Linked DNA regions of Homo sapiens. The protein of the gene in region 2 purifies or fractionates together with the protein of the main gene of each other region. This does not show direct contact. Each region holds a gene or a part of one and is shown on either strand. Other genes may lie near its edges. The genes, in order: FAM83B, SLC25A18 and KIAA1671.

The links.
Region 1: the proteins of SLC25A18 (region 2) and FAM83B purify together in Homo sapiens (affinity purification with mass spectrometry; one large-scale study listed by BioGRID and IntAct). This does not show direct contact.
Region 3: the proteins of SLC25A18 (region 2) and KIAA1671 purify together in Homo sapiens (affinity purification with mass spectrometry; one large-scale study listed by BioGRID and IntAct). This does not show direct contact.

What each region holds. Positions count from the first base shown.
Region 1 is NC_000006.12:54,940,646-54,943,211, reverse strand, and holds part of FAM83B (protein FAM83B), read right to left. Parts: coding exon 1,205-2,566; 3' UTR 1-1,204. UniProt on the Homo sapiens protein: Probable proto-oncogene that functions in the epidermal growth factor receptor/EGFR signaling pathway. Activates both the EGFR itself and downstream RAS/MAPK and PI3K/AKT/TOR signaling cascades.
Region 2 is NC_000022.11:17,562,143-17,566,332, reverse strand, and holds the start of SLC25A18 (mitochondrial glutamate carrier 2), read right to left. Parts: upstream 2,836-4,190; 5' UTR 2,620-2,835; exon of another isoform or gene 2,220-2,619; intron 2,065-2,219; exon of another isoform or gene 1,830-2,064; intron 1-1,829. UniProt on the Homo sapiens protein: Responsible for the transport of glutamate from the cytosol into the mitochondrial matrix with the concomitant import of a proton (symport system).
Region 3 is NC_000022.11:25,025,584-25,029,235, reverse strand, and holds part of KIAA1671 (uncharacterized protein KIAA1671), read right to left. Parts: intron 3,604-3,652; 5' UTR 3,452-3,603; intron 1,292-3,451; 5' UTR 1,237-1,291; coding exon 1-1,236.

The DNA.
Region 1 (2,566 bases), on a different chromosome or scaffold from region 2:
TCATATTTGGCACAACTTAAAGAAGAGCAAGACCTGTAATCCCAGCACTCTGGGAGGCCGAGGCGGGAGGATCACGAGGTCAGGAGTTTGAGACTAGACTGGCCAACATGGTGAAATCCCATCTCTTCTGAAAATACAAAAATTAGCCGGGTGTGGTGGTGCGCACCTGTAATCCCAGCTACTCAGGAGGCTGAGGCAGGAGAATCGTTTGAACTTGGGAGGCAGAGGTTGCAGTGAGCCAAGATTGCGCCACTGCACTCTAGCCTGGGTGACAGAGCGAGACTCCATCTCAAAAGAAAAAAAAAAAGAGCAAGAATTTTCGCAAGCAAGACCCCTTAGCATTGTCATGCCAATCTAACAAAAATTTAGGCAGAAATTTACATTTCTAAAAGCTTTTATACAATAGAAAAAGGAGGGGGAATCATTCAGATTTTCTAAATTCCTACTGGTTTGTCCTAAATGTGAAGTAAGGAATGACTATAAAAAATCAGCAGCCTATGGGTAAGAGGGGGACAGCTCCCTGGGTCCAGTGTAGAAAGAAGCACATCCCAGACCGTTTTCAAAGGCTGAGGAAAATAAATTCCTACGAATGTCATTATACTACATGAGGCTGATACTTTGCAAACACTTCAGGCAGAAAAAAAAATAAAAAATAAAAAATGTAAAAGGTACTGCTGTTGCCCAAACAGCTGTACAATGATCCACAGAAAAAATAATATTAATAAAATATAACAAGTTATCCCGTAGAACTTCAAGTTAATCTTAAAAAAGGGCTTTGTCCCATTTGCTTATATTTTTGAAGATATGAAAACACTATAAACACATGTTATAAAGGGTTACTGAGGGTAGTATGACCTTTTTAAAAGGAAATGGTTAAAATCCATACACCATACACCATACACCATACATCGTCCACAAAAATTTCTAAGTGAGACTTAAAATCTTCAGTCTAAAGAAAATGATTTAAATACATCTATTATTTTTACCATTACCACTTACAAATAATGTGTTTACAGAGAAATTCTATCTACAGCAGACCCTAACTTTATCACACAGAAAAATAACTTTATACTAGGACACTGGTGAACATATACATCATACCCATAATTCTGTCCTTAGGAAAATCTATTGGCATGTTACAAAGACTGTCCACAATTTTCTTTGGACAAATATTGATAGCCTCATTCATTTTGCATTTTAATAGCTATTTATTTTTGTGTATAAAGTTTCCAAACTTTTGCATAAATCCTCGAAACTTGTTCTCATTGGGTTGATATGAGCGATAAACACCAGTGTTGTAATTAAGCAATGGACTAGACCTGCCATAACTGTTGCCCATAGTCGCAGATTTTATTTCTGGGCGATTTATACTGGTATTTGGCATGTTGCTTGTTGGCTGAATAGAGCTCTCAATCTTACAAAACGGCTCAAAACGACTGTAAACACGCCGATCAGTTGAATGAGATCGTAGAAGCTCACTGGACGTTGGCCTTGGAGAAGAAGTAGGTCTTCTTTCAGGGGTAACAACTGCATTAATCTCCCTTGAATCTCGGTATTGGATCTGTTCAGTGTTAAATCTTGGGGCAGAGGCATCTCCTGCCCTTTCCAAGAACTTGCTTTCAACTGGACCTGGAGAAGGTGTTCTTTTATTTTCATCTGGTGGAGCATTTATCTCTTGAGATGGGCTAACTGTTACATCTTCCTTACTCTTGTGGATGCTGCCTTGAGAATTCGATGAGGAAGAATGCTTTCTTCTAGGAGATGAATCAACTTTTGTGTCTGATTTCTTTGGTTTTTGATTTTCTTCACCCTCAGAAACTAATGTGTCAGAGCTACTACACAATCTATAAAAGGCAGGTGCTTTATTTTTGGATAGATTTTCTTTCTTATCTGGGGTAAGGCTAAGTAATGACCTTAACTTCTGAGACCCCTTTTTCAAAAAACTTGGGGAACCCTTAACTTCCTTCTTTGAAGCAAGTTCTTTGTTAGATTCCTCTTTATTCACATCAAGTAAAGCAGCAATGGAAACTGATTTGGTAGTAGTGCCACTTGGAGAGTTTCTCTTGGTAACTTCCTCCTCATCCTCCTCCAAGTTATGAGTCACATTGTGCATGCTTTTAGAACTTTTCAGCAAATCTTCTTTGGGCTTTTCTGGTTGTCTAACTCGATTCCTGGTAAGTGTACTATATACATAATGCTTACTATTTCCAGGATCTAAGTTGGCTTTTGAGTTGTCAAATAACGGGAAACTTCGCCTTTTAAGTAGATTCTCAGTCTGTTGATTCTTTAGATTTTCTGTCTGCTTATTTACACCCAAGGTTTTATATATATAGTTATTTGATTCAGTATGGCCATTTGTAGTTTGGTTTAAGGCTACTGAGTGGTTTTCAGGAACCTGCAAGGTGTGCATTTTTGGTGCCTCTGACTGCAATGGGAGCTTGGGGATTGATTCTGGCAAGGGTTTGTCTGTCAAATGCTGTACATTCGTAGGGGTGTCTGGGACCTCTTTAGGTGTCTCACTTCCCTGAGAACCAATGATAGTTGAATTTGAGGAGCCAGTTGTACA
Region 2 (4,190 bases):
GCCAGAGGCAGGTATCAGATTTGAAACACGCATCAGCAGGAGGAAGATACATTATCCCCCCACTGAGAGTGTTAGAAGCAGGGGGTAGGTAAGGAGACGGGGAGGGAAGAGAAGTTTGGCAGCTGACATGAGCTTAAAGTAGCAGTTGCAGATGAGGGGGTGACAGCAGGCACCAGAAACAGCGGTGCAGTGCCGTGTCACACCCACAAGCATGGTTCAAAAAAATAGAGATCGGCATTGGTGCGGATGTAGAGAATTGGAACCCTTGCTGGTGAGAATGTAAAACACGGCAGCCATGGTGGAAGACAGTATGGCAGGTCCTCAAAAAAGTAAACACAGAGGCCAGGTGCGGTGGCTCACGCCTGTAATCCTTGTGCTTTGGGAGGCTGAGGTGGGAGGATCACTAGAGCCTGGGAGTTTGAGACCAGCCTGGGAAACATCCAAGACCCCATCTCTTTATTTTTTGAGACGGAGCTTCACTCTTGTTGCCCAGGCTGGAGTGCAATGGCACGATCTCGGCTCACTGAAACCTCTACCTCCTGGGTTCAAGTGATTCTCCTGCCTCAGCCTCCGGAGAAGCTGGGATTACAGGCATGCCCCATCATGCCCGGCTAATTTTGTGTTTTTAGTAGAGACGGGGTTTCTCCATGTTTGTCAGGCTGGTCTTGAACTCCCCACCTCAGGTGATCTGCCTGCCTCGGCCTCCCAAAGTGCTGGTATTACAGGCGTGAGCCAACACACCTGTCCAAAAATTTTTTTAAAAAATTACTCAAAAAAACCCCAAACAAAAAATTAGCCAGGCGCTGCGGTGTGTGTCTGTAGTTCTAGCTACTTGGGAGGTCGAGGAAGGAGGATCATTTGAGCCCTGGGGTTGGAGGCTGCAGTGAGCTATGATCATACCACTGCACTTCAACTTGGCAAGACCCTATCTCTATTAAAAAATAGAAAATTTGGCAGGGCGTGGTGGCTCACGCCTGTAATCCCAGCACTTTGGGAGCCCGAGGTGGGTGGATCACGAGGTCAGGAGATCGAGACCATCCTGGCCAACATGGCAAAACCCCGTCTCTACTAAAAAATACAAAAAATTAGCTGGGTATAGTGGCAGGCACCTGTAGTCCCAGCTACTCGGGAGGCTGAGGCAGGAGAATGGCGTGAACCCGGGGGGGCGGAGTTTACAGTGAACCGAGATTGTGCCACTGTACTCCAGCCTGGGTGACAGAGCAAGACTGTCTCAAAAACAAAACAAAACAAAACAAAACAAAAACAGAATGAGTCTGCACAGAGTGACAAATGAGGCTGCAGGCAGAAATAAGAGCATCCCGAGGGAGGGCTCCTGGGCTCAAGCGATCCACCCACCTCACCCTCCTGAGTAGCTGGGATCACAGGTGCACACCATCAACCTGGCTAATTAAAACAATTATTTTTTTGTAGAGGTGGGGCCTCATTATGTTGCCTGGGCCTGATTTTTTTTTTTTGGAGACAGAGTCTTGCTCTGTCCCCCAGGCTGGAGTGCACTGGCTCAATCTTGGCTCACTACAACGTCCATCTCCCAGGTTCAAGTGAGTTTCCTGCCTCAGCCTCCCGAGTAGCTGGGACTACCACACCTGCTACCACGCCTGGCTAATTTTTTGTATTTTTAGTATAGATGGGGTTTCACGTTAGCCAGGATGGTCTCCATCTCTTGACCTCGTGATCCGCCCGCCTTGGCCTCCCAAAGTGCTGGGATTACAGGTGTGAGCCACCGCGCCCCAGCCAACTTAAGTCCTTTCTAAAAATTTTTTTTACTTTATATAAACTGTTTGTATTCTTTTTTCTATGCTATGCCTCAGGTTTGAAGATGTTCAGCTCAGATTACCTGCATCTAAGGACCAAAATGTAAATGCCAGGGCCATTCTTCCAGGTCAGTTTGCATCAGAACCATGCAGGTTGCATCTGTTGCTAGTTACAAGAGAGAGCTAGGCCCTTCTTCAGTTTAAGGTCTTAGGCGGGATGCCAAAATCTGCATTTCCAGCAAGTTCCCAGATGATGGCCAGGCTACATTGTGAGAACATCACAATAGATCATGTGAGTGAGAATGATCAGGGCAGGCTGAGGTGGTGGGGAGAGGAACACCATCACTTCTCCCAAGCTGCAGTTTCTGCAGATCTACGCTGCCTTTGGGAAATGTTTAGCATCACACTGGACATAATTACTTGCGCTGCATTTTCTGAATTACACAGTCTTCGTCTTAGAGTGGAGCCAGGGCAAAAGAGGAATTCAAGCTGGAACAAGGAGTCCGAGAAGACGCGACTGCTGGACAGAACAAGCGATGAAGCCAGTCCCCAAACTGATGAGCCCGCAGCTCCATCCAAATTAAATGGGCTGAGAACACCAACACTCCACCCTCCCGGTACGATTGCATGGCAGGGAGGAACCAAAAATATTTTTCCTTCATCTGCTATCTCAGCTAAGCAGTACACTCTTTCTAGCACCTCACTAGAGTCCAGTTTTTCTGTATTCTGTATTCACAATACAGGTTTATTATGAACTCTGAGCAGATGAGGCTATTTTTCCCCCTTTTGGTTTCTTAGTAACTAGGCAAAGTACAAGGCTCACGGTGGGTATTTAATAAATACTTACTGACAACTTGCCTGCAAGCGAGTCGACGTTCATCTCAGTTGTTGAGGCACTCACGGGCCAGGCTTCACTCGACTCTTCTCACTGCCTACTCAGTTCCTTCTCAAAGCAAAGCCCGTGGATATATCCAAGGAACTGGCTTCATTGCTTTTAAAAATTCTGTCCAGCTTTAACTGGCTAGAATAGGGGTCCTCGTCCTTGTCATATGCTGTCCAGAATGAAGTCCAAATCCAGGATTCTGGGAGCATGTCATGCTTTCTCGAACCTGCAGGAGTCTCAAGGGCACCTGCATTGATATGCATGTCATGGCTGTAGAAGGGGGCTGGCATTGCAGCACACAATAGCCAAATCTGGGGATTTTCCAGATGCCTTCGCCTTCTTGGCTAGTATTTTTCACTGAAGGTTTTTTATAAAACTGCTTAAGGAAACTAGGGGAGTGAGCATTGCTAGCAGAAAGGGGACTAAAATAGATGCACAGAGGTCCCTTAAAAGTCCAAAGGAACACCACGAGGCCAGGGAAACATCTGCAGGGTCAATGCAGAGAAATCAACAGCAGTTGTGGGGGAGGACAGTGAAGGCAGCCACACAGCAGGCAGCTGCTGCTGGGTCACCCAGGGCTCTGCCGCGGCTCCATGAGCGCCCAGAAGGAAAGGTCCCATGATACCTCTTGCATAACAACTGCATGACATAGGCCGTTCACCTTCCAGGAAGATTCCAGGGTAAAGATCAGCCCCCAAATAGCCCGTCTGGATGGTTATTTTCTCAATTCCGTTGGTAGCACTCTCAGAGAACATAGAGTATAGCAAAATGGAGCCCACAAAGGGGCTGATTTATAAAACTTGCGTTGCCTTTCCTTCCAGTAACACGAATTGGTTTAGAGACAAGAGACATTAATCTTTAACAAGAGAAGCACCTATGGATGTCTCCAAATGTCAAAATAGAAAGTTGATCAGAACTTTTGAGACTAATCTACAGTAACAATGTATAGCTTCCTGTCTCCCTAAATCTTGCCCGAGTAGCTTTTATGCTCTTATTTTAAGAAGCTCACTGTGTAGGATTATCTGTGTAAGATATATTTACCCAGGATGCTTAACAAGCGTTAAACAGTAACAGTTCCAAAAATAGAGCCACATTTACACTGCCTACTGCACTGTTTTGAAACAGTTAACCAGTGGAAGATGCTAACTTTTGGTACATATATTTGTTGCTGGTTTTGGCCCGAAGAAGATAAATCTGGAAGCACTCTAAATGGCTAAGTTCCTTATAAAAAATAAAGGCCGGGCACAGTGGCTCACGCCTGTAATTCCTAGCACTTCGGGAGGCTGAGGCAGACAGATCACTTGAGCTCAGTTCTAGACCAGCCTGGGCAACATCGTGAGACAAAAAATTAGCTGGGTGTGGTGGGGTGCCCCTGTAGTCCCAGCTGCTTGGGAGGCTGTGGTGAGAGGACTGCTTGAGCCCGGGAGATTGAGGCTGCAGTGAGCTGAGACCATGCCACTGTACCTAGCCTGGGCAACAGAGTGAAACCCTGTCTCAAGAAAAATTAAAGCCTATCTTTTTTTTTTTTTTTCATG
Region 3 (3,652 bases), 7.5 Mb from region 2:
TTCTAGGCCCCTTCCCAGCCTGGGTGAGGGGGACTCAGCAGCCTTCTCTGGCTCTGGGTCCAGCTTGGCCTTTTCTTCCCAGGGACTCTGGTCATTGCTGGGGGTGACCCCAGATGAGCCCCCCACCAGGGCTCTGGGGCTGCCCATCTCCGGCTTCGAAAGCATCTTCTCCTTCCGTTCACGGATTTTCTTGGCCACCTCCAGGAAGTCCAAATCAGGATCATGAAGAGGAGCCTCCGCCTTGACCAAACAGTCCCTGTCCAGCTTGGACGCTGCTCTGGGCCTCTCTAGCCCAGCCATATCCCCTGCTGTGGGTCCACTTCCTTCATCGGCCACCTTCCTCAGCAAGGCCTCTTTGTTCTCAAACCGGGCCGTGAGGTCCATGGACAAGGGCCTGGGCTTCCTCACCCACGTCTTCTCGGGAGGGGTGGGTGGCACTTTGCCCACTGTGGCCGCTGCGCCGGGGCCTGGCTTCTGAGGCTGAATGGACTCCGTGAAAATGGCAGACACGGGCCTTCTCTTCAGGCGAGGCCTGGGCTCCACAAGGGGGCGTGCCGTGTCCTCCACACTGCTGGCCTTTGAGGGAGGATGGTCTTGGCCTGCCTCCTCTTGGGGTACAGGTGGTTTTGTGTCCTGAGACAGGGGAGCTGACCGGGGAAGGGTCCCCGCAGGCTTCTGGGTGGGCAGGGCGGGCTTGGCAGCCACCTCAGGCCGGGAGCCGGACACACCTAGCTTGGCCTCCTCCGCCCCCTCACTAACCGCCTTCCCCAGAGCGGGGCCGCTTTTGGTGGTTTCGAAGAGAATCATGGTGCTGGAGCTGGGCCGCAGGAACACAGCCTTGTTGAAGAGGGGCGAGCTCGTCCTCGGGCCCTCCCCACTGCCCACCTCCTGCCCCACCAAGCCGGGCATCCTGTTGTCCAGATCCTTTGCTGCTGGCTCCTCAGAGAGCCCCCCAGAGGGGGAAGGTCCAGTCGAACTGGGCCGCAGAGACGGGACAGGAGATTTCACGTCCTGCTCCTTCGAGAAGGGTTTGGGGGCGAGCCTTGGCAGAGGGAGTAACCGGGCCGGGCTCCGCAGGGGGCTCTTCGCTTCCAAGATCCGGGCTGGGGGAGCCCCAGAGGCTTCGCCGGCCTGGAGGAAGTAGGTCCTCGTCAGGGTCTCCTCCTTGCCCATCTCACCCAGGCCTGGCACGGCCGTCAAGGGCGTTATGGAGCCCACCTCGACCCGCGTGGCCATGGTTATGGTTGTGGATTCATGGGGGTTAGGAACTTCAAGAATGGAGAAGCAATTGCTAAACAAACAAAACAAACAAACAAGTAAATTTGGAAAACAGTCAGTGTCTGGGTTGAAGCAGAATGGTTTAGAGAAATGGGACAGAGTCCTGAGCCCCAGATTCCATACGACAGCCCTCTGCTGACCTCACCCGGCAGGCTTGGGCCTGCCTCTCCCCGTCTCTGAGCTCTGGACGAGGGGAGTGGACTAAACGCCCATCCCTGAAGTTCGTTCCAGCTCCAAGGGTGTAGAAAAGGCATCAACACTCTGGAGGACTTTCCCCTGACAGCTAATCTAGAGGCCAGCACTTAATGGCAAAAAGCAGTGATCTCTGCTACACAGATAAGGAAACCAGCTCAGAGAGGCCAAGTAACTGGAGTCACCCAGGAAGCAAGAGGCGAAGTCAGGACTTAAAACCAGGTTTGACACCAAATTCACACCACACATGCTCCTCCCTGAATAGGCCTCAGTGGGAGCGTCCTCACATTCCCTCACTCCTGTTACCCTGTTTTCCCACTGCAGAGCCTGCCCACATCCCAGGTGATCCTAATCACAAGTGTGTGCTAAGCATCTAGCACAGAGAAGGCAAGTAACCTGCTGCAGGTCACACAGCAATGCAGCTCAGGAGTGCCTGGGAGCACAAAGCTGGTTAGTGACCTTGGAACCCATGCCCTAGGCACCAACCCCACCCAATCATCCCTTTGTCCCTTTTCTTTCCCCTCCCCCACCCTTCCAGATGCCATAAAAAGAAGCCATTCTCATTTTTCTCACTCAACCTGCTTTCATTATTTGTTTGCTTTGTGGTTCTTTTCTGTTGAACACGCATATTATGCTGACTGCCTTCATACTCTTAATAGAAAGAGAAACGCCCAACAGTGAGGTCTTCCCATGAGTGAGATCTCGAGCTATGCCACATGCTTCTTGTGTTTTATACATCTCATCCTCCTCACAACCCTATTTAGTGGGTACAATTAGGAGACCCCATTTTGTAGTAGCTTGGGGCATAAGCCTCTTGTTCACCCTGCTATGAGATCTGTTTTCGCAAAGCAGGGGACCTCCTCTCTCATTAACCCTCCAGCAACTCCAAAAGTCAAGAATGAAGGAATGATCGTTATCTCCCTCATGGAGATGAAGGGAAAGGGCCCAGAGAGGTCGCCAGACTTGCCTACGATCACCCAGCTGAAACCTAACCTCAAGTCCACCACCCACTTAGCTCTGTCTTTTTTTTTTTTTGAGACCAAGTTTCACTCTTGCTGCCCAGGCTGGAGTGCAATGGCGCGACCTTGGCTCACAGCAACTTCTGCCTCCCAGGTTCAAGCCATTCTCCTGCCTCAGCTTCCGGAGTAGCTGGGATTACAGGCATGTGCCACCACGCCCAGGTAATTTTGTGGTTTTAGTAGAGGTGGGGTTTCTCCATGTTGGCCAGGCTGGTCTCGAACTCCTGACCTCAGGGGATCCGCCCACCTCAGCCTCCCAAAGTGCTGAGATTACAGGCTTGAGCCACCACACCCAGCCTCAGCTCTGTCTTTTTAAAAATTATTTTTTATTCCTTTCTGGTCTTAAAAAGTGCCAGGTAAGTTGCTGTTCTCGATCCCCCAGGCTCTCTTCATGCCAGTGTTTTCTTCCCTGTGAAACTGCCCCCAGCCAGCCCCCACCTAGATGGACTAAAAAAGTAGAAGGTATTTTAGTTAAACACAAGCCTCTCCACTTCCCTTCCTTGGGGCCCCACACTGCTCCCCCGGCTCTGACTCACTCAGCAGCCTCCAGGAAAGAAAGGCAGACAGATTTTGATATTTTCTCTTCCTTACACGCTCGATGGTGCTAACAGATTCCATCTCCCCAAACTGGAGAACACTGTCTAGACACGGTTAGAGGTAGAATGGAGGGACAGATATGAAGAATCTGAGAATTGGAGAATTTCCATACACAAAGATCCCAACCAGAGTTCTAAGGCTCCAGAATCCCACCCAGAATCAGGGCCATTGGCCTTTTGGGAGAGCAGCTGTGACCTCTGGAAACCCTGATTGAGGATACATATGTAATAGCCAGGACATGAGACACAGAACAATGACAGGATTCAAAGGACAGAGAGAAAATTCTCTGGCAGAACTCACAGGCACTCTCCATGCCCTTGGACACTCCAGCCCTCAAGCTTGGGTCAAGCATGGGCCCCACTTACCCAAGCTGGCAGGCCCTGGGTCAGGGGGTGTGACTGCCGGGAAAAGCCAGTAGTGTCACATGTCATCATGAATGGGGCTGTCCACACACTTCCATGGCAGAAACAAGAAGGGGGAAAGAAGACTCGTCCCAGCAGGCTGAGTTTCAGCAGGTCTAAGGAGACACAGGATGACAGCCTCAGTTCCGGAGTTCTGGCAGTATG